Regions from separate parts of the Homo sapiens genome. Here region 2 is linked to region 1. The links come from fine-mapping of genetic effects on gene expression. A gene starts in region 1. The other region holds a variant in brackets. All regions are shown on one strand. Distances are from middle to middle.

The links. PIP is the estimated chance that this variant, and not a neighbour inherited with it, causes the effect.
Region 2: its variant is fine-mapped to the expression of SLC26A3 in testis (GTEx, PIP 0.93).

What each region holds. Positions count from the first base shown.
Region 1 is chr7:107,798,741-107,808,501 of GRCh38, reverse strand. It overlaps SLC26A3 (solute carrier family 26 member 3), which reads left to right and starts at 5,279. Exons shown (of 21, transcript NM_000111.3): 1 at 5,279-5,391.
Region 2 is chr7:107,778,517-107,788,277 of GRCh38, reverse strand. SLC26A3 (solute carrier family 26 member 3) reads left to right here. Exons shown (of 21, transcript NM_000111.3): 7 at 769-921; 8 at 1,369-1,451; 9 at 4,926-5,073; 10 at 5,185-5,298; 11 at 5,404-5,481; 12 at 8,515-8,610. Among named protein-coding and RNA genes, the nearest start is that of SLC26A3, 20 kb to the left of the region's middle. RefSeq lists a cis regulatory region at 8,392-8,415 and an enhancer at 8,332-8,476. The variant C/G (reference allele first, on the strand shown) is at 5,919.

The DNA of each region.
Region 1 (9,761 bases):
AGAAGATATATATCTTCAATTTGACAAGACAGTCACACGCTGCTATCGGAAATGACTGCCCCAATTTACAACTCACAACGATAGTATAAGTGTTCCTATTGCTCCACAGCCTCTGTGACACTTGGTATTTTCAGGCATTTCATTTTTACCATCTGATAGACAAAAGCAGATTTACCATAAAGCAAATGCGGTTTAGGCTTCAGGACCTTTCATTTGCATGGGCCCCTTCAAAGGCCCTGTAGTTAATTTTATATGTGAAAATTTGTAATCTTTTTCTTAAAACGACATCCACAAATTGCATAATCTTCATGCTCCACTGAAGCTAGTTACAGCCCTGCTAATGATGGATGTGAAATGTATATGGTTGTACTTACTTTTCCCTGATTACTAGTGAACTTGAACATATTTTCATATGTTAATTGGCACTTCAGGTTTTCTGTGAATTTTGCCTTTTGTTTATTGATTTGTAGGAGTTCTTGATATCTTCTGGATATTAATCTTTTCTAAGACTTAACTGGGCAAATACCTTGTTCAGTCTAGAGCTTGTCTTCACTTTTGTTGTGGTGTCTTCCATGTTTTAATTTTAATAAAGATGGATTTGTCAGTCGTTTCCTTTATGATATGCACATTTATGTGACTTGTTGAAGAAATACTTTTATTCCAAGGTTATAACAGCATACTTTTTCTTCTAAAAGTTTAAAATTTTACCTTTTCTATTTAGGCCTTTGGTCAATTGAAAAAATGTGTGTGTGATTGCTGTGAAATAGAGATCTAAATTTTATTTGTTCTACATGGATAGCCAGTTGTCTCAGCACCATTTATTGAATAGTCCATCTTTTCTCTAATGCCACGTAACCTCTATTATATATCAAGTTTCAATACATGTTTCTAGGCTTTCTGTCCTGTTCCATTGGTATATTTATTTCCCACAGCACAAACATATAACTGCCATAATTACTATAGCTTGATAATAAGTCTTTATATCTGCAAAATGTTTCCCCATTTTTTCTTCTTCAAAGTTGTCAACAAATGTTGCATGTTCTCACTAATACGTGGGAGCCAAAAAAGTGGATCTCATAGAGAGAGAAAGTAGAAAGATGGCTACCCACAGGCTGGGAAAAGTAGCAGGGAGTGGGGATGGAGAGCTGTTGATTAATGGATACAAACGTGCAGTTAGATGGAAGGGATAAGTTCTAGTGTTTCATAACACAGTAGGGTGGCTGTAGTTAACAATAAATTATTGTATAGTTCAAAATAGCTAGAAGAGAAAATTTGGAATGTTCCCAAAACAGAGAAATGATAAATGTTTGAGGTGATAGATATCATTATTACCCTGATTTGATCATTACACATTGTATGCATATATCAAAATATCACATATATCCCATAAATATATACAATTATTATGCATCAATTTCAAAAATTGTCTTGACGTCTTGACTTTTCTTGGCCCTTTGTTCTTCCATACAAGTTTTAGGCCAAGTTTGTCCAGTTCTATGAAAAAAAAAAAAGAAAAGCTTTTTCATTGTAATAGCATTTATGTAATAGATTAATTTGAAGAAAACATCTATATGATATTGAACTTTCACACTCATGAAGATTTATGGCTTCATATTTTTCTTTTTTTCTTTTTCTTTTTTTTTTTTTGTTTTTGAGACGGAGTCTCGCTCTGTCGCCCAGGCTGGAGTGGAGAGGTGCGATCTCGGCTCACTGCAAGCTCCGCCTCCCGGGTTCACGCCATTCTCCTGCCTCAGCCTCCTGCTTAGCTGGGACTACAGGCGCCTGCCACCACCACGCCCGGCTAATTTTTTGTATTTTTTAGTAGAGACTGGGTTTCACCGTGTTAGCCAGGATGGTCTCGATCTCCTGATCTCGTGGTCTGCCCACCTCGGCCTGCCAACATGCTGGGATTACAGGCGTGAGCCACCGCACCCGGCTATATTTTTCTTAGGTTTTGTTTTTGTCCTTTAATAATGTTTTCTAATTATCTCTATAAAGTTCATCATTATATATCTTTAGATAAGATTTACTCCAGCTAGGCACAGTGGCTTGCGCCTGTAATCCCAGCACTTTGGGAGGTCGAGGTAGCAGGATAGCTTGAGGCCAGGAGTTGGAGACCAGCCTAGACAACATAGAAAAAACCCATCTCTACAAAATAAAATTAAAATTAAAAAATTTACTCCTGTAATCCCAGCACTTTGGGAGGCTGAGGCGGGCAGATCACGAGATCAAGAGTTCAAGACCAGCCTGACCAACATGGTGAAACCCCCATTTCTACTAAAAATACAAAAATTAGCCAGGCGTGGTGGTGCGTGCCTGTAATCCCAGCTACTCAGGAGGCTGAGGCAGGAGAATCGCTTGAACCCAGGAGGCAGAGGTTGCAGTGGGCTGAGATCGAGCCACTGCACCCCAGCCTGGGCAACAGAGTGAGACTCCATCTCAAAACAAATAAATAAATTAAATTAGCCAGGTGTGGTGGCATGTGCCTGTAGTCTAAGCTACTTGGGAGGCTGAGGCAGGAGGATCACTTGAGCCCAGGAGTTCAAGGTTTCGGAAAGCTATGATTGAGCCACTATACTCCAGCCTTAGTGACAGAACCAGACCTTGTCTCTTAAAAATAAAAAACAAAAAGGATTTATTTCTACTAATCTTTGTAGCTTTTGTTGCTATTACCAATGATATCTTTCTTTTTATTACATTTACTACATGGTTATTATTAGTATATAGGAAGGCTATACACTATGTAATATATATCGTGTAATAATTTGCCTTTGTTCAGCTTGTATCCATCAATCTTGCAATACTCTCTTATTTGTTCTAAAATAAATCATTTTTATGCTGATCAATAATTCTGAGCCTCTACCTTTAAGTGCAATATTTTCCAGTTCTTCCATCAACCACATCTAAATACAAAATTTAATCAGTGTATAGTGGTTCTGAATAAATATTCTGTACATCTGTTAAAATTATAAAAAGCAGTATTATACAGTAAAGACATGACAAAGTTAGGCTTTCTGGATTCTAGCTGGCTTCAATAAAAGCCAATAAAAATTAAAAATTGAGATTTCACCACAAGTGAAAACTCAATCTATTCATTTGTAAAATAGGAATAAAAATACTAAGCTATCTATGGTTGTTATGAGGATTAAATGGGATAAACCCAATAAAACACATTGCAAAGTTACAGCCCATACTAAACACTAATTAAAGTTAGCTAATGTTGATAAAAGCATGATAAGTGGCACCACAGCTCATTCAGTTACGCAGTTAGCACAGGTGTGAGCCAGATTTAAAAACACAGGTTAGATTAATTTCTAACAAACGCTAATGACCTGTCCACATTCTTTTGGAATTGTCTTATAGCAAACATAATTCATTGATTGAACTGTCATTGAACCACTATTTATTGAGTCATTGTTCTGTGGTAGATTCATTCTAGGTACTGGGCATACAGCAGTGAATTCGCCAAAGTCCCTGCCTGTGTGGGGCTTTCATTCTAATGAGAAAGCCAAACATTAGCCAAGTAAATAATTGTGTATTTTTAAATTATGATGCTATGTTTTAAAAAGTACATGCAAATTAACCAAGGGACTTAAAAAAATACTCTGAGAGAATGCCACAAGAGGGGCTAATTGAGATTAGGAAGTCAAAGTGGTTCTCCTTGAGAAAGTGATGTTGAAGCTAAGTAACAGCCAAACCGAGAGAGAGAGAGAAGTGCATTTAAGCAGAGAAAATGATGTCTGCAAAGAGTGGGCAAATTTGGGACTACAGGAGGCCACCATGGTGGGAGTGGAGAAAACAAAAGTAAGAGCAGAGTCAGATGAGGTTGGAGAGTTGTGCAGGGGGAGATCATGCAAAGACTTTGGAGGCCTGTTTTCCCTCTGTGTAATCATCAGCCCCACAAAGAGGACTAGTGTGAAAAGATCATTCTGATTAATGAGTGGTAAAGAGATGGGGAGGGCTGCGAGAGGAAGCAAGAAGTGCAGCAAAGGTAAGAGTGAAGATGAAGAAAAGTGATGGCTTTGGGATGTATTTTGGAGGCATGCTCAATAGGGTTTAAGGATGGATTGGCTGCGGGTGGGGAGAAGGTCTGCAAGAAGAAGTGTCAGAGATGGTTCCCAGGTCTCTGACATGAGTAAAGGGGAATATTCTTTACTGAAATGGGGAAGACTAGAGATGGAGCAGATTTGGGAGGAAAGATCAAGAGGTCTTAATCTCGATATGTGTCGTGTTTGAGATGCCTATGAGGCATCCAAGCAAAGATGTGGAATAGGCAGTTAAATATGTGGACCTAGAGAGCTGGGGTTAGAAATCTGAATGTTGCTGGGAGCCATAGGACTCTTATTTAGGGTAAGAGGGTAGCAAGAGAGGAGAAGGAAATTCAGAACAGAATCTTAGGAAATGCCAAAGAAAGAGTTAGAGGAGAAATTGGCAAAAAGGATGAGGTGAAAAACAAGTGTGTTAAAAATTTTTTTTTAGCATTTCAAGAAGAGAAGATTTTAGCCCGGCATGATGGCTGAGGCCTCTAATCCCAGCTACTCAGGAGGTTAAAGCAGGAGGATCACTTCAGGCCAGGAGTTTGAGACCAGCCCGGGCAACACAGCAATACCCCATCTCTAAAATTAACTAATTAGTTAAATAATTTTTAAAATAAAAAGAGGAGTTCATGAAAGTGTAGTCAGCAATGCCAAATGCTTTTAAGTAAGATGAGAGTTGAAAGTATTCATTGTGTTTAGCAACATAGGGTTTATTGCTCTTAGGAAGAGCTGTGGTGGGGGCAGAAATTGGAATGCAGATATGGCCTGTGGCTGGGAGTTGGGTGAGTGTTCCTAATGAGGGCCTTTATCATACCAGGAGTTAACCTATACACCACACTTCTGCAGCCCATGACAGATTCCATGGAGTCATCCAGCCAAAAAACACCACCACTAAACTCTCATCTAAACAGGTTGGTGAAATGTCAAGGAGATAACCCTTGAGAAGATTCTTTTTTTTTTTAAGTACACGTGAGCATCTGCTGTGCAATCTCTGCAAACCAATGAAATTACGTACACACAAGTGCATTAAACCACCCACTGGTGGTTTAATCTCACAAGGAACTTGAGGAAGCAATCTTCATCATCACTTCTGCTGATCAAAGTCTCAAAGGTCAAGACCACATTGCAGTCTTTTCATTGTTGTAAAAGTTAATGAGAGTTAATTATTAAAGCTGACAGAAAGGTAATTTGTCCACTGTCTTACATAGCCTATATATAGACATCCCTATGCATATGGATGCACACAGAGCCTGTAGACCTGAGTGGATGGACACTGCCTCTTAGAACTAGAACTTAGAACTTTATCTTGAAAATGTACCACTGTTGCAGAAGCTCCTCACAGAGTATGTGTCAGGTAGGAACCAAATTTATGATTGTTATATTCAAACTGGTTTTCTGTTCCTTGAAAATGGTATTTTTTCTGATCAAAGCCTATTTAGGAGTTATTATGTTCTTGAGTTTATTCCATGTGTGTGAATATTTTGAATGAATCCACTAATAAGATATGCATGTATGTCTGGAGCGCTAGCAATGTAGAATAAATATTTAAGTAGACTTTAACAAGTAAATGGTTGTAGGCATCATTAAGTCTTAAATAGCCTTTTCAAAGATATTAGTGTTCTTGTTTTAATTATTCAGATAATTCCTTTAATTCTCCACTCAAATCTGACTTTATAGATAGATTGTCTGCTCTGAGGGTTGGCAAAAAAAAAAAAAAAAAAAGCAAGCTTTAAGGAAAGAGTTTCTCCAGGAGAGAGAATCACCTACTAGAAAGGATTCAGAAAGGCCATCTGGTCCCAGCCAGGCATAGGGATATGTATCTATAGTCCTAGCTACTCAAGAGGCTAAAGCAGGAGGATAGCTTAGCCCAAGAGTTTGAGGTCAGCCTAGGCAACATGGCAAGACCTTGTCTCTTAAAAAAAAAGGGAGGGGGTAGGGGACATATGGTCTAGAAGTGAGAGATTTATCTGCTAGACATCCTAGAAAGTCCAAGACTAAGGGAAACACGGAGAGAAGAAAAGGCAATGAGAGTAAGAAGGATAGAGACTGGAAAGAGAAGAGAGATGGGGAGAAAATGGTCACTGGAAAGTAGCAGAATGCCCTATGCCACAAGTAGTATAATATAATATAATACATTAGTAATGTATGGGTACTTATCCCATACATTACTAACTCTATCAAGATAAAATCTATTTTATTCTTTAAAATGTCAGGAAAAGATTATACAACTTTCTTTATATATGCAAGTGAGGAACAATTTATCAAATTATTGGACTAAATAATTCTCTTTTCTGAAGTAAGTTAGTCATTTGGAAAAACTGTGTCATGAAATTTGACTGCATAAAGATCATTCCTTTTTTTTTTTTTTTTTCTGAGACGGATTCTCACTCTGTCGCCCAGGCTGGAGTGCAGTGGCACAATCTCTGCTCACTGCAACCTCTGCCTCCCAGGTTCAAGTGATTATCCTGCCTCAGCCCCCCAAGTAGCTGATACTACAGGCACGCTCCACTGTGCCTGGCATTTTTTTTTTTTTTTTTTTGTATTTTCAGTAGAGACGGGGTTTCGCCATGTTGGCCAGGCTGGTCTCGAACTCCTGACCTCAGGTGATCCTCCCACCTCAGTCTCCCAAAGTGCTAGGATTACAGGCATGTGCCACCCCATCCGGCCAAGGATTATTCCTAATGAAAATTTAGGAAGCAACTAATTTGATTTCAGAAACAAGAAAAATGGGGTAACACAATACATACTTTGCCTTCTCCCTCTGGATAAGGGAATAAGTAAGTATATAAAGAAATGAACAAATGTTTAATACCTCCTAAACAGCTCATATTCGACTAAGAAACAAAATCGTTCAGAAAATGAGAATGAATATTTTTCAATTACAAGAATAAATATGTAATAACACAGTCTGGTGCTTCTCTACAATAAAGGTCTTTGATTCTCCAAAGAGAAGAGAAGAGGCTCCTCTAGCCTCTGTGTCACTTTGTTGAGAAGCAAGGGGAAGAATAAAGCAAGTCACCTCAAGGAGATTTGTCCCCAGGCCACCAGGCTCATGTTTTGTGTTGTGGATATTGAGTGTAGGAGTGTGAGGCTTTCATGCTCAAAAGCAAGGACCCTGATGGTGCCTCACCTTGTTCTTTTACCTTGTCTCTCTTGGGGGTAGGGGCTGAGACCCCTGACATTGAATATGTAGCAGAGAAGAAGACGTAGTGGAGAGAGTCAGTTATTCACTAGATGTGGCTTCTCATCCTGGCTCTGGGAAGTTGAGAAAGTCATTTATCTTCTCTCATCTCCATTTCTTCATCTGTAAATTAGCGACAATACAGCCTATCTTGTCTGCCTCCATCCACAGTAATACTCAAGGAAGAAAAGTGAAAGTGCTCAGAAAATCTCAAAGCCTTACAGAAATGGCCAGGGATTCTCTTTTGCCTGCTGTGAGCCTACTGGGTGTGAAATCCCTTGCTATGGTGCATCCCAACATTTCTCTAATGGTTTAGCCTATGGGCCAACAAAGCCTTCTGTTTCAGTGTTTGGAACTCTCAATAACCTTTCACATGATTTGCTTATTGCCCACTGCTTTGTCATCACCCCTGCCAAACCTATCTGTTCTTTAAAGTCTAACACAAGACTCACAGTTCCTTCACAAAACCTTCCTAACTCCAACCCACATTTACATCCCTTCTTCCAATTTATTATCTGCACCAATTATTTTGGGCACTTCTCCTGTGTATGTAAACTTTGGAGTTTAGGTCTACGTCATTTATATATCTTTTGCTCATAGTTCAGTTTATTTCAACAAACTTTCTTGTATACTTACTATGTCATAGGACCTAACAAAAGAGGGAAAAATGGTTAAGATTTGGGCCTTGCCCTTGGGAAACTCAGTCTTAAAGGGAACAGAAACATAAACAAATAATGTATGACATGGAATAGACATATATACAAGGTACTTACAAGAAGGAAATGATCAACTCTATCTAGGGATTCCATGAAGGCTTTACATCATTTTCTTATCTTCTACAACTGTGTTAGGAACTGAGTTCCTGACAAATAATAGGCTGATACATGTTTGTTGAAGGAATGAAGAAATGAATCAATGGTCAGCTGAGTTGTGTTTTGTTTGTTTGTTTGTTTTAGAGACAGGGTTTCTTTATATTGGCCAGGCTGGTCTTGAACTCCTGGCCTCAAGCAATCTCCCCACTTCAGTCTCCCAACGTGCCAAAATTACAGGCATGAGCCACTGCACCCAGCTGTGCTGAGTATTTTTAAGAATGAATTGGAATCTACCAGGTATTGGAGAAGAAGAACACAAAGGAAATCATGTGTACAGAGATACGGAACTGTTAAATATCATAGCGTGTTAGGAACCTGCTGCAATTGTGAAGGAGGAGTGAAGAAGCTTGTGAGATAGACCAGAGCCAAAACATGAAGGACCTTGTATGTCATTCTAGGAAGCTCGGATAGCTAGATTATTTTAAAACTATGTTAAAACAAACTGGGATAAAAATGGAAAACTGCTACTTCTAAAGATAAGCTCAGAGTAAACATAAAGTCATAGAAAAGTTGGCAGCACTAACATTTTCCAACAGGTTCCAGCTGACTTTTGTGGACCAGTTGTAAATTCCACCAACAGTCAATATTTAACTCACTTCTGAGACTGCTACCTATGAACTTAAGGCTAAGAAGTCTCCCTTTGTATACCCTGCTTTCAGTTTTAAGAACAGCCCTAGAAGGAAAATAATGGTCTCCTCCTTTTGCTTTAAGGAAATTGAAGCCTTGGGCCGGGTGCTCACGCCTGTAATCCCAGCATTTTGGGAGGCCAAGGCAGGCAGACCACTTGAGGCCAGGAGTTCGAGACCAGCCTGGCCAACATGGCGAAACTCCATCTCTACTAAAAATATAAAAACTTAGCTGGGCATGGTAACGGGTGCCTGTAGTCCCAGCTACTCGGGAGGCTGAAGCAAGAGAATCACTTGAACCCAGAAGGTGGAGTTTGCAGTGAAATGAAATCGCGCCACTGCACTCCAGCCTCCACCCTGGGCGACAGAGCAAGACTCTGTCTCAAAAAAAGAAAAGAAAAGAAAAGAAAATTGATGGCTTGAATCACTGGCTTATAGCAAACATAGTTAAGATATGGCAAGGCAAGGATTTGAAACCTGGTGTGCTTAGTTGCCAAAGTCTCACTCTTTTCTGTTGTACCTCCCGATTAATTTAGGTTTGACTTCCTTCTTCAGCATCTTCGGCAATGTAGTAATAGAATTGATGAAAAATAGTAGTAACAATTATTGCCCACCTCAGCCTTTGACCCCTTCTGAGCTCTCTTAATCAACCTCAGTGCTGAGACCCCTCCCCTCCATTCACCACTCCAGCCCTCTCCCATTCTGATGCCATCATCTCCCTGCTTCTATCCAGCCTCACGCTAACCAGAATGTGGAGCTTTTTGTGAGCTTGATTTCTGATTCCTCTGGCTGCCGATGGAGATCCCTCTGAAGGTGCTCACTGGAGCAATTATTCTGCTTGTTCCCCCATCTCTCACCCACTCCCCCAAGTATAGTTATCAGGACGCTGCTGTATTTCCCATTGTCCAAGGACTAATTCATGAAATAGGGCTGGCTTACCTCTGGTTTTGCACTGACTGGCTCAGAGATATTTTGAGATCCATGAGGTGAGTTGTGTTTTCAGCAGATTTCAGGCACAGTGTGGCATTTTCAGTGATGTCTCTAT
Region 2 (9,761 bases), 20 kb after region 1:
GGAGAAGTGTTACTTAATTTTTGTTGTTAACATTAGCTCGATGGTAGATGTGTTTGATTTTTAACGACTCCCAAAAGTTTTTGGGAGTTGAGACAGAACTTGCTCCAAATTGGAACCAACACTCTCTTTCATCCAGAGGTATTCCAAAAGTGGAGTGTTCTAGAAGCAATTTGGGATCCAGTTTTGGCCTGCTTGAGCTTTTTGGGGTAAGTGGATATGGAACCCAACTAGCTTCAAGAAGTATGTGCACATGCATAGTGCACAGTTAGCCAGAAAACTATTTTCCAAAAGTGACATAGAGAGTCAGCTAAGAAATATGAGGGGGTGTAAACCCCCCAAGAGGGCCAGGAATTGAGCATACTAAGCAAAACTATCAAAGATCAGAAGTTATTCCCTGGACAGAGTAGTGATGGCTGTGAAATAAAAAATGACGACCAAAGAGACCTAATAAGGGCAGAAGACCAGTGGTAAAAATGTGAAAAGTATCCAACAAAATTTGACACTAGCCAAAGAGATTCCCAGCAAAAATGCCAGAAGCATTCTTAAACTAGTGTGCCACCTACACTATGCTAACTTACTCTTCTCATATCTCCATCGCTACTCTCTACAATTTCACATTCACAATTAAACCGGGGCAATACAGGAAATCACTATCAGTCTCTATCAGTCTTTTTGCTTCCATGTTTATTTTTATTTGTTTGGAGATGCGTTGTATCCAAATTGTGCATTAATATAGGGCTTTGGTGGTTTTTGTTTTTATAATTGTAGGTACTATACTCTGTATTCTCACAAATAGAGAAGACTAATATTGCAGACCTGGTGACAGCTCTGATTGTCCTTTTGGTTGTATCCATTGTTAAAGAAATAAATCAGCGCTTCAAAGACAAACTTCCAGTGCCCATTCCAATCGAATTCATTATGGTAATTGATCATTTTCAGACTCTGTCATAGCTACTCTACTGTTTATATGTTGTAAGTCCTTCACCATTTGTAGCTCAGGAAGTTTTAGTGGGGCAGAGGCCATCTCTGCAGTTTTCGGGCATAATGTTTAGCATGGTTTTATTTTCATTCAGAATTTAATAACTTCCTCTTATGATTTTGAGTTAATTTTTTCCACGTGAGACAAGGATAGTGCAGAGAGCAAGACCCTTGACAAAATGTCGTGTTAGAGCCATTTGAATTTAGCTGTGGTTCTCAATCCTGGCGGCATGTTAGAATTGCCTCCGAATTTCTTAAAAAGTAACAAAGCCTGGGCTGGAGTTCTTACTTAACAGGTACAGAAGTGGGTTTTGGCAATTTATTTTTCTTCAAAGCAAGACTCTTACTTGCATCTCACATTTCTAACTTGGGCCATTTGCAACTTTGCAGACCGTGATTGCAGCAGGTGTATCCTACGGCTGTGACTTTAAAAACAGGTTTAAAGTGGCTGTGGTTGGGGACATGAATCCTGGGTAAGTGTGTCTTCGATGATGGCATCACCATGCACTAAGCAGAGAGTTAGCAGTAGTGACAGGAGAGGTACAATCCGAACTGCAGTTCAGCCTGCAGGTAACCCTCATCAGAATCCTCCCTGCACCCTGCATCCCTAAGGAAGGCTCACTGCTTTCCTTCTAGGAAGGTGCTACAAAGAAAGGCAGGGTGTGCAGTTCTTTTTTTTTTTTTTTCGCCTCCCCACAGTGAATGCAGTTCTTAATATCAGAAGGCTTCTCCTTGTGGAAGAACTCACAAACAAGACAAGCAGGGACACAGACCAGTAGAAACTCACAGGAAAGTAAAAGTTAGCAAAGTAGTGAAAGTCTAAAAATAAGCAAAGTAAGGCCAGACCCGGTGGCTCATGCCTGAAATCCCAGCAATTTGAGAGGCCAAGGTGAGAGGATCACTTGAGCCCGGGAGTTCAAGACCAGTCTGGGCAACACAGCAAGACCCCCATCTCTTGTTTTTTTAAAAATATATAAATAATACCATAAAGAAAAATAGGCAAAGTAAACTGCTTCTCCTCTTAAAGAAACATCAAGTGAAACCAGATTTCCTTGTCCATAAATTACTATAAACAATATGTAATGCTTTGTTTGAAGTTACTGGAGCCAAGTTCTGAAAGTTCAAAGAAGACACTGAAGGAACACAGGCACTCCACGTGAGCAGTCCAGATAGGCACACTCTGTCCTTTCTCCCGATCAGATTCAAAACAAGGGCAGAGCAACTTTTCCCACTGCAAAAGGATGAGAAGTCCAGTTTGTACAAGAATTTTAAAATGTATTTCATTACATTCAGTGGATTGAGAAGGAAGATCATTTTGTGTTGTTTCTTCTAACCACAGAATCAGTTTCTTCCAACTTACCAAGGAAAAGGTGTTTTCCTGTTTTGTTTTGTTTTGTTTTGTTTTTTTAAAAGACTTCTCTCCCTCTCTATGCTTAAGAAATATTTGAGAATTCGAGAAATCAGCATTTATATGTATTTTTTTTACTTTAAAACAGCCAAATTCTTTTAAAGGCAAATATATGTACTTTTTATTTTTTTAAAGAAAAAACATTTTTTTTATTACCAGATCTTCGTGTGTTACATTTCACGAATCTCAAGCATCACTTTTAATTTTTAAAGTTTTAAAGTGGAAATTAGGCTGAAACTGAAAGACTGTTTCTAGGGTTTCCTTCTATTCTGCCACTTTGAAGTGATTTCACTTTACTTAAATGTCTTGGGAGACATAAACCAAATAGAAAAAATGAATACTTGCAAAACCAAACAGGATCTTGTCAGAAGGGCTTGGAAAATAAAAGATAAACTTAAGATCACTGAGTTACACCTTAAATACCTCAACAACAGTCTTATTTAGTGAATGTATTTTCAATGTCAGTGTACCTCTCTCCACAGTGTGTAGGGTGTGGCAACGGGTAACCATTACGTTCAATAGAGTGGCAGTGTAACCTAGTAGGTAAGCTCCAGTGTTCTAGAGGCAGAGTACCTGAGATTTGATTCTGACTCACTTTTTGAGCTTGAGCACATTACCAAAAACTCTGTGCCTCAATGTTCTTGGCTGTAAATATGAGGCTAAAAATAATAGCTATCAAGTAGGATTCTTTTAAGAGTTGAGTGAGTTAATACATGTAACATGCTTAAGTGCCTGACTTACAATAAATGTTCAAATTACACTACTATTGTTAACTAGTTTAACACCTAAATTAGGTAGCAAGCACTTGAGCTTTTTATGCTCCATTTTTTTTTCTGGGTGATGATTGAGTAGGTATTTTAAGTTTTTGTTGATTGCAAATAGACTATAACTGGAAGGTAGTGATTATTAATTATTGCTAACCTACTGTTCATGACTATGCCACCTTAGTAGTTATTTTGCAAAGTCTCATACACTAAATACAAATAATTTGGCTGAAGAAAAGTGCTCATTGAAACAGTAAAGGAAACACAAGGAGTATATTCAGATTCCAGAGGGATCCTATAATAATAGCTAACAGGCACTTTGTGTTTTACAGTGTGTAAATAGTATTTGCATTTATTATTTGACCCTCCCACTAAACTGTGAAGAAAAGAGAACAAGGACGGGCGCCATGGCTCACGTCTGTAATCTCAGCACGTTGGGAGGTCGAGGCGGGTGAATCACTTGTGGTCAGGAGTTCGAGACCATCCTGGCCAACATGGCAAAACCCTGTCTCTACTAAAAATACTAAAATTAGCTGGGCGTGGTGGCACACACCTGTAGTCCCAGCTACTTGGGAGGCTGAGGTGGGGAGATCTCTTGAGCCTGGACAGTGGAGGTTGCAGTGAGCTGTGCACTCCAGCCTGGGAAAGAGGAGACCCCATCTCAAAAAAACAGAGAACAAGTTTTATTATCCTCACTCTACAAATGAGGAAATTGTGACTTGGGAAGGGCAAGTGGCAGAGCCAGGAAATGAACCCAAGTCTTTAGACTGTAAATCTTCATCACATCATTCTGTCTATGGTGTTCAGAGACCAGAACAAAAGAATAATAAGATCCTGGTTATTAAAAAACAAAAACATTCCAAGCTAACTTTTGGATTTATAATGGCATCAGATATAATAGTACTTCTTCAAAATTATGGTATAATAGTACTTCTTCAAAATTAGAGATAAAAATGTATTACCATAGATATTCACAAAATGTGGAACAGCAATTCAGAAAGAGTTGATTGGACCTAATTAACCCACTTCCAATAAGTCTGATGTCAGAAATATATGCTTATAGGAGTGGAACATTTTAGTAAATTGATGTTGAGTTTAAGATACATGCACCTTTTATGATACAATTAGTAAATATAATTGAACTGGTCTACATTCATGAGGCTTAAGCACAGAAGTACGCCCTGTGAGTTGAAGGTTTCTCTGACATATATCACCTTAAAGAGAAATCCACTCTCCATTAGGGTCATGGTTGTCTCTAGCATTTCTGTGAAGTGCAGGGCAGAGTCCAAGGCCCATCTCTTTGCCAGGAGTTTTCCATGAAAGGTTATTATTATCAATGGAAAGAAGACTTTTTTGCTTTCCTTGTCTCACAATTGTGTTTGCTCAAAGGACTTCATGTATGGATAACTATTGGGAGCATTTTGAGTGATGCTTTGCAGCCCAGTGTAACAATACAAGTGGAATAGAAGACATTTTGCAGGAAGCTTATAAGAATACACACGCACATTATAGTGTGGTTTTACTGGCAAAATCATATCTGATTTACCACTATCCTTGGATTGAATTTGCAGTCTTTTACCAAATTCAGGCAGTGTTGCTTTTCAGCATTAAGAAAGCAGATTGCAAAATTGTTAGTGGAGCTAAATTCTCGTTAATCATACTCCAAAGTGAGACACAACTCAGCCTAGATTGCATTCATTCATTGATTTGCCCAATGGTTATATCAGTTTATAAATTGGTTGGTGACATTCAGACTTGCTTAATTTCAATTTTAGATTTCAGCCCCCTATTACACCTGACGTGGAGACTTTCCAAAACACCGTAGGAGATTGCTTCGGCATCGCAATGGTTGCATTTGCAGTGGCCTTTTCAGTTGCCAGCGTCTATTCCCTCAAATACGATTATCCACTTGATGGCAATCAGGTAAGTAAACAAACTACACTGGGTCTCACTGGGCAACTTTAAATAATATTTTGCACACATAATATCAATGGTGCCACTTCTGAAAAAGGTTCATTCTTGTCTTCCTGTCAGGAGTTAATAGCCTTGGGACTGGGTAACATAGTCTGTGGAGTATTCAGAGGATTTGCTGGGAGTACTGCCCTCTCCAGATCAGCAGTTCAGGAGAGCACAGGAGGCAAAACACAGGTATGTCAAGATCTTTGCTGCAAGCACTGTCCTAGCGTTAGTAACTAGGAAATTCAAGCCAGGGGAAAAGTTGAGTTGGTGATGATAATTTTTTTATCCTCACAGATTGCTGGGCTTATTGGTGCCATCATCGTGCTGATTGTCGTTCTAGCCATTGGATTTCTCCTGGCGCCTCTACAAAAGGTAACACTGTCTTTGGATAGCATCTCTACTTTTAGTGGTAAATCAAGGACCCCGGTTCTTAAATTCTGAAAGCACAAACTAAACTAGGGGAAATGAGGTAATGACAAACTCTCAAGTACTCTTCTTAGCCAATACTCTGTATGAGCCAAAAATATTTCTTTTTCCCTGGCAACATGTTCTGAATGTTAGGAACACAGGTGCCCAACCTGCCTTATCTCCTCTACACTTTGCATGTGCATAGCCCCAAATAGAATTAATGTTGAAATAGGAGGGCACCCTGGCACCACACTTTCAACACGCATGGACTGAGTAGAGGTTTTCTTAAAGGTTAAGGTAATCAGGCCCTCTATCTAATTCAGAGAATGGCCCTACCAGCCACACAACTCGTTCTTAGGAACACACCCTGAAGCTTCTAGAACTTTGGTTTAACTCCAAGA[C/G]CAACACTGTTGGATTGTGGGATGGGAGTGAACAGCCAGCACAGACCTCCCAGCCCTACTCTCATGCTCCTCTGCCTATAAGCTTGAGGGTTTAGTTTAATACTTTGTAAACTGCTGCAGCACTCAGATATAAAACATACCATCAGACCCTGGAAAGCAAAGGCTCTCTAGGAAACAAGATGACAGTAAATACATTGTTCCTTGTGGTTTTAATATAATTTTGAGGTGGTACATGGAGCCCTGTTGACCTCCTTCTAATCCTGGCTCTGCTACTTATTATCTGTGTGATTTTGGGCAAATTACTTAACCTTGCTGAACCTCAAGCGCCACATTTGTAAAATAGAAAGGGAAATAATACCCACTACACAGAGTGACTATAAAAATAAATAAGATCATGTATGTGAACTACTTAGCTGAGGGTTTGGCATATGATAAATACTTGATAAATGATAGTCATTATTGTTAATAATATTATTATTCTACATTGTATTACACTCCTGGCTATAAAAGACATAGAGATATGATACAGCCCACAAATGTCTATTGGCTGTTACCTAGGCCTTTTTTCCTTGTTGGTTGGTAGCCGAACGGTGACTGTGGTCCCAGGTTGCTGGACTCCCAGTGTGGTCATCTCAAAAAGCTCAATGGCCAAATCCATCTTCAAGCAGGGCAGAGAACAATTTGCCAAAAATATGCATTCTCCATAGGCTATACTTCTGATTTCAAAATAAGTGGCATAAAAGGAATGAAAAAGTCACCACTAAAGAAATAGAAGAATGTTATCTCAATAAAAATAAACGCACACACACTCACCCCTACAGAGAGAACTCCACCCTCTCATGCTTCTCCCCGGGTGTAAACTTGAGTTCTACCTAGCCCACATCAATTTGGAGACACTAAAGAAATAATTACCAAATCTTGTCCAAGATTTAATCAAAGCCCCTTTTATAAAGGGTCCTGTGATATGTTCTTTTTAGGCCATTGTGGTCAGGAATGTCTTTGTTTCAAACACCCAAATAACTATTTGCTTCTTTTTATCATATGAAGGCAAAATAACCCATAATAAAAGCTCATAATAGGTATTTATTGAGTGCTCACTGCATGTCAGCAGAGCTCTAAGCGTTTTCTCTTCATTTAATCCTTTATATCAAATGCAGTATGGATACCAGATTACTGCGGAAATTATCCCCCTTTCCTTTCTATGATTTCTTAATGCTCTGTAATCTTTACTTTAAAAGTAATCTGTTGTATATGTATGTCATCGTAAATTACTTCAAATTGTTTTTCCGTAGAATACTGACTAGGTGGGAAATAATGCCCAATGGAAAAAAAAAGTCTCTTCGCACAGGTGTCTCTTGACATATTTTATACTTAGAGAATTAAAAGTCCTGCAAAATGGAGAGGCCCGTTGTACAGTCCTCTGACTTCTTTGCCTAGCTACCACAATGGTGACATCTTACACAGCTGTAGTACAATATCAGTACTATACATTAGTATAGTATGTTAAGTAGATTACAGACTTTATTCAATTTTCACCATTTTTTAACTGGCATTCACTTGTGTGCCAAATTTTTTAAAAGTCACTTAAGACCATATTTCTTCTAAACTGTGACCTCTATTCTCACAGTTAGTAAAATTAATTGCTTAGATATTATATTATAAGGATTACCTGTGAAAATTAGAAATAGGCAGATCAGTTCAACTGTCCTCAAGATATAAAAATAAAAACTGTATTTGGCTTTTCTTTGTACACTGTGTTTTCATGGTATAGCAGTATACAAATTCCATACTCCATTCAGAATAAAATAAATTGGCAGGGGGAACAGGACGGTGAGGGGCATGTTCCTACAATTACGATAAAATCCAAAGAATGAAGAGAATATACTTAGCTATTCAGCATTTTTCACCTTAACTATCACAATTCCTGCAAGATAAAAGATCACATTCTGGCTGTGGAAGAATTGGAAGTCTGAAGCTTGGCTGTAGGGATTAGTACTGGCCTGGGAAATATTCATTCATTGGCTCAGCCACTCATTCACTGACTAATTTTAAAGCCCCTCCTGTATGCATTTAACATAGTAGGTTCTGGGGATATAGCAGGAACTAGATAGATATGTTTCATGCTGTCCCAGAAAGCCCGCCTCAAGTCATCTCATTCCAGGACCTCAAGCTTCCCAAGCTATTTTTTTTTTTAACAAAGAGCAACCCCCATCTCCTTGACTCCAATAAACAAACACACATTAGACTGTCTCTGCTTGGGAGGAATTTATTCCAAATGTTAGTCTGTCATAGGTCTGAAGGTCTGCCTTTCTCTGTCCCAAGGTGCAGGCTACTAAACGCCATCAGATCATCTATCTCATAATCACAAGAGCAGCCTAGGCCTTGTCACTGTTGTGGGGACAAAGTCATTCATAGGAACAGGTCAGAGTCCCAGTTCTGGTGTGTCTTGCGTGGCATCGCACACCGGAAAAGGGTGTAATGCTTTGATTTGCTTTGAGGCCCTTTAAAGCACACACTTATCTATAGCCTTCACCTTTGCTTCCCTGTGGTTTATTTCATTAACTTAAAGTACATCTGATGTTTGTGTTTTTCACAGTCCGTCCTGGCAGCTTTAGCATTGGGAAACTTAAAGGGAATGCTGATGCAGTTTGCTGAAATAGGCAGATTGTGGCGAAAGGACAAATATGATTGTGTAAGTAGAGGCAATAGTATTTGAAAGAGAGATAAATCACAATAGCATTTTAATGCTAATGTGAAATGCATGTTTATATTGTAAACTAAGTGAAATTTTGTTTCTATATATCTGTTCAAAAAAACCTTAGTTTGTTTTATTTGCTATTTTTAAATTGCATATTCTAATGGTCATTTTCTGGGACTTTAATTTTTTTAAATGGCTACTTTTAATTTAAAAGAATGGGCTCCATGAAACACTAGTCTAGAACTTCCTTAGGCCTATTCTAAAAGTTCTTGCAGTAATCCCAAGTACCACAGAAACTCTCTGAATTTAGGGTACGCATGGCTTCTGTTCTTCATTACATAATGTTTTTGTTTCCACGAATCTGTGAAGAACTTAATTTCTGAACATTGCTTTTGGAAATACTCTCATTTGGAAAGGCTCCCCCTTGCTCTCACATGCTTTGCTATTTTAACAGGGTCAAAGTCTGTGGTGTAAAAATGCCTGTTAACATACCCTTAGGTATTTAAAGATCATAACTAGTAAACTACACTTGGTTTACTTTTGTGGGGCGTTTTAACACCCTTTTGGCATGCTAAAATTCTTATAAAGATAGCAACCATTAATTAAATCAACAGACCAAGAGTAAAACATTAGTATAAGCTCTACCAGTTAATTTGCTGATTTTTTTTTAAGAGATAGGATCTCCCTCTGTCACCCAGGCTGGAGTGCAATGGTGCCATCCTAGCTCACTATAACCTCAAACTCCTGGGCTCAGGCAATCCCTCTGCCCCAGCCTCCTGAGTAGCTATGACTACAGCTGCACACCACCATCCTCAGCTATTTTTTTTTATTTTTTGTAGAAGCAGATTCTCACTATGTTGCCCAGGCTAGTCTTGAACTCCTGGCCTCAAGTGATCCTCCCACCTCAGCCTCCCAAAGTGCTGACATTACAGGTGTGAGCCTTCACGCCCAGTCTAATTTGCTGATTTTAATGAACAGCAGCTGGTTCTATTAGGTTGGTGCAAAAGTAATTGCAGTTTTTGCAATTATAATTATCACTGTGACAGATAATTCCATTTCCTAAATGAGTTGGAGATGGGATTAGAAATAAATACACTTTCTTTGAATCCTCTTATATTTGTGTGTGTTTTTGTGGCCCAGAACCT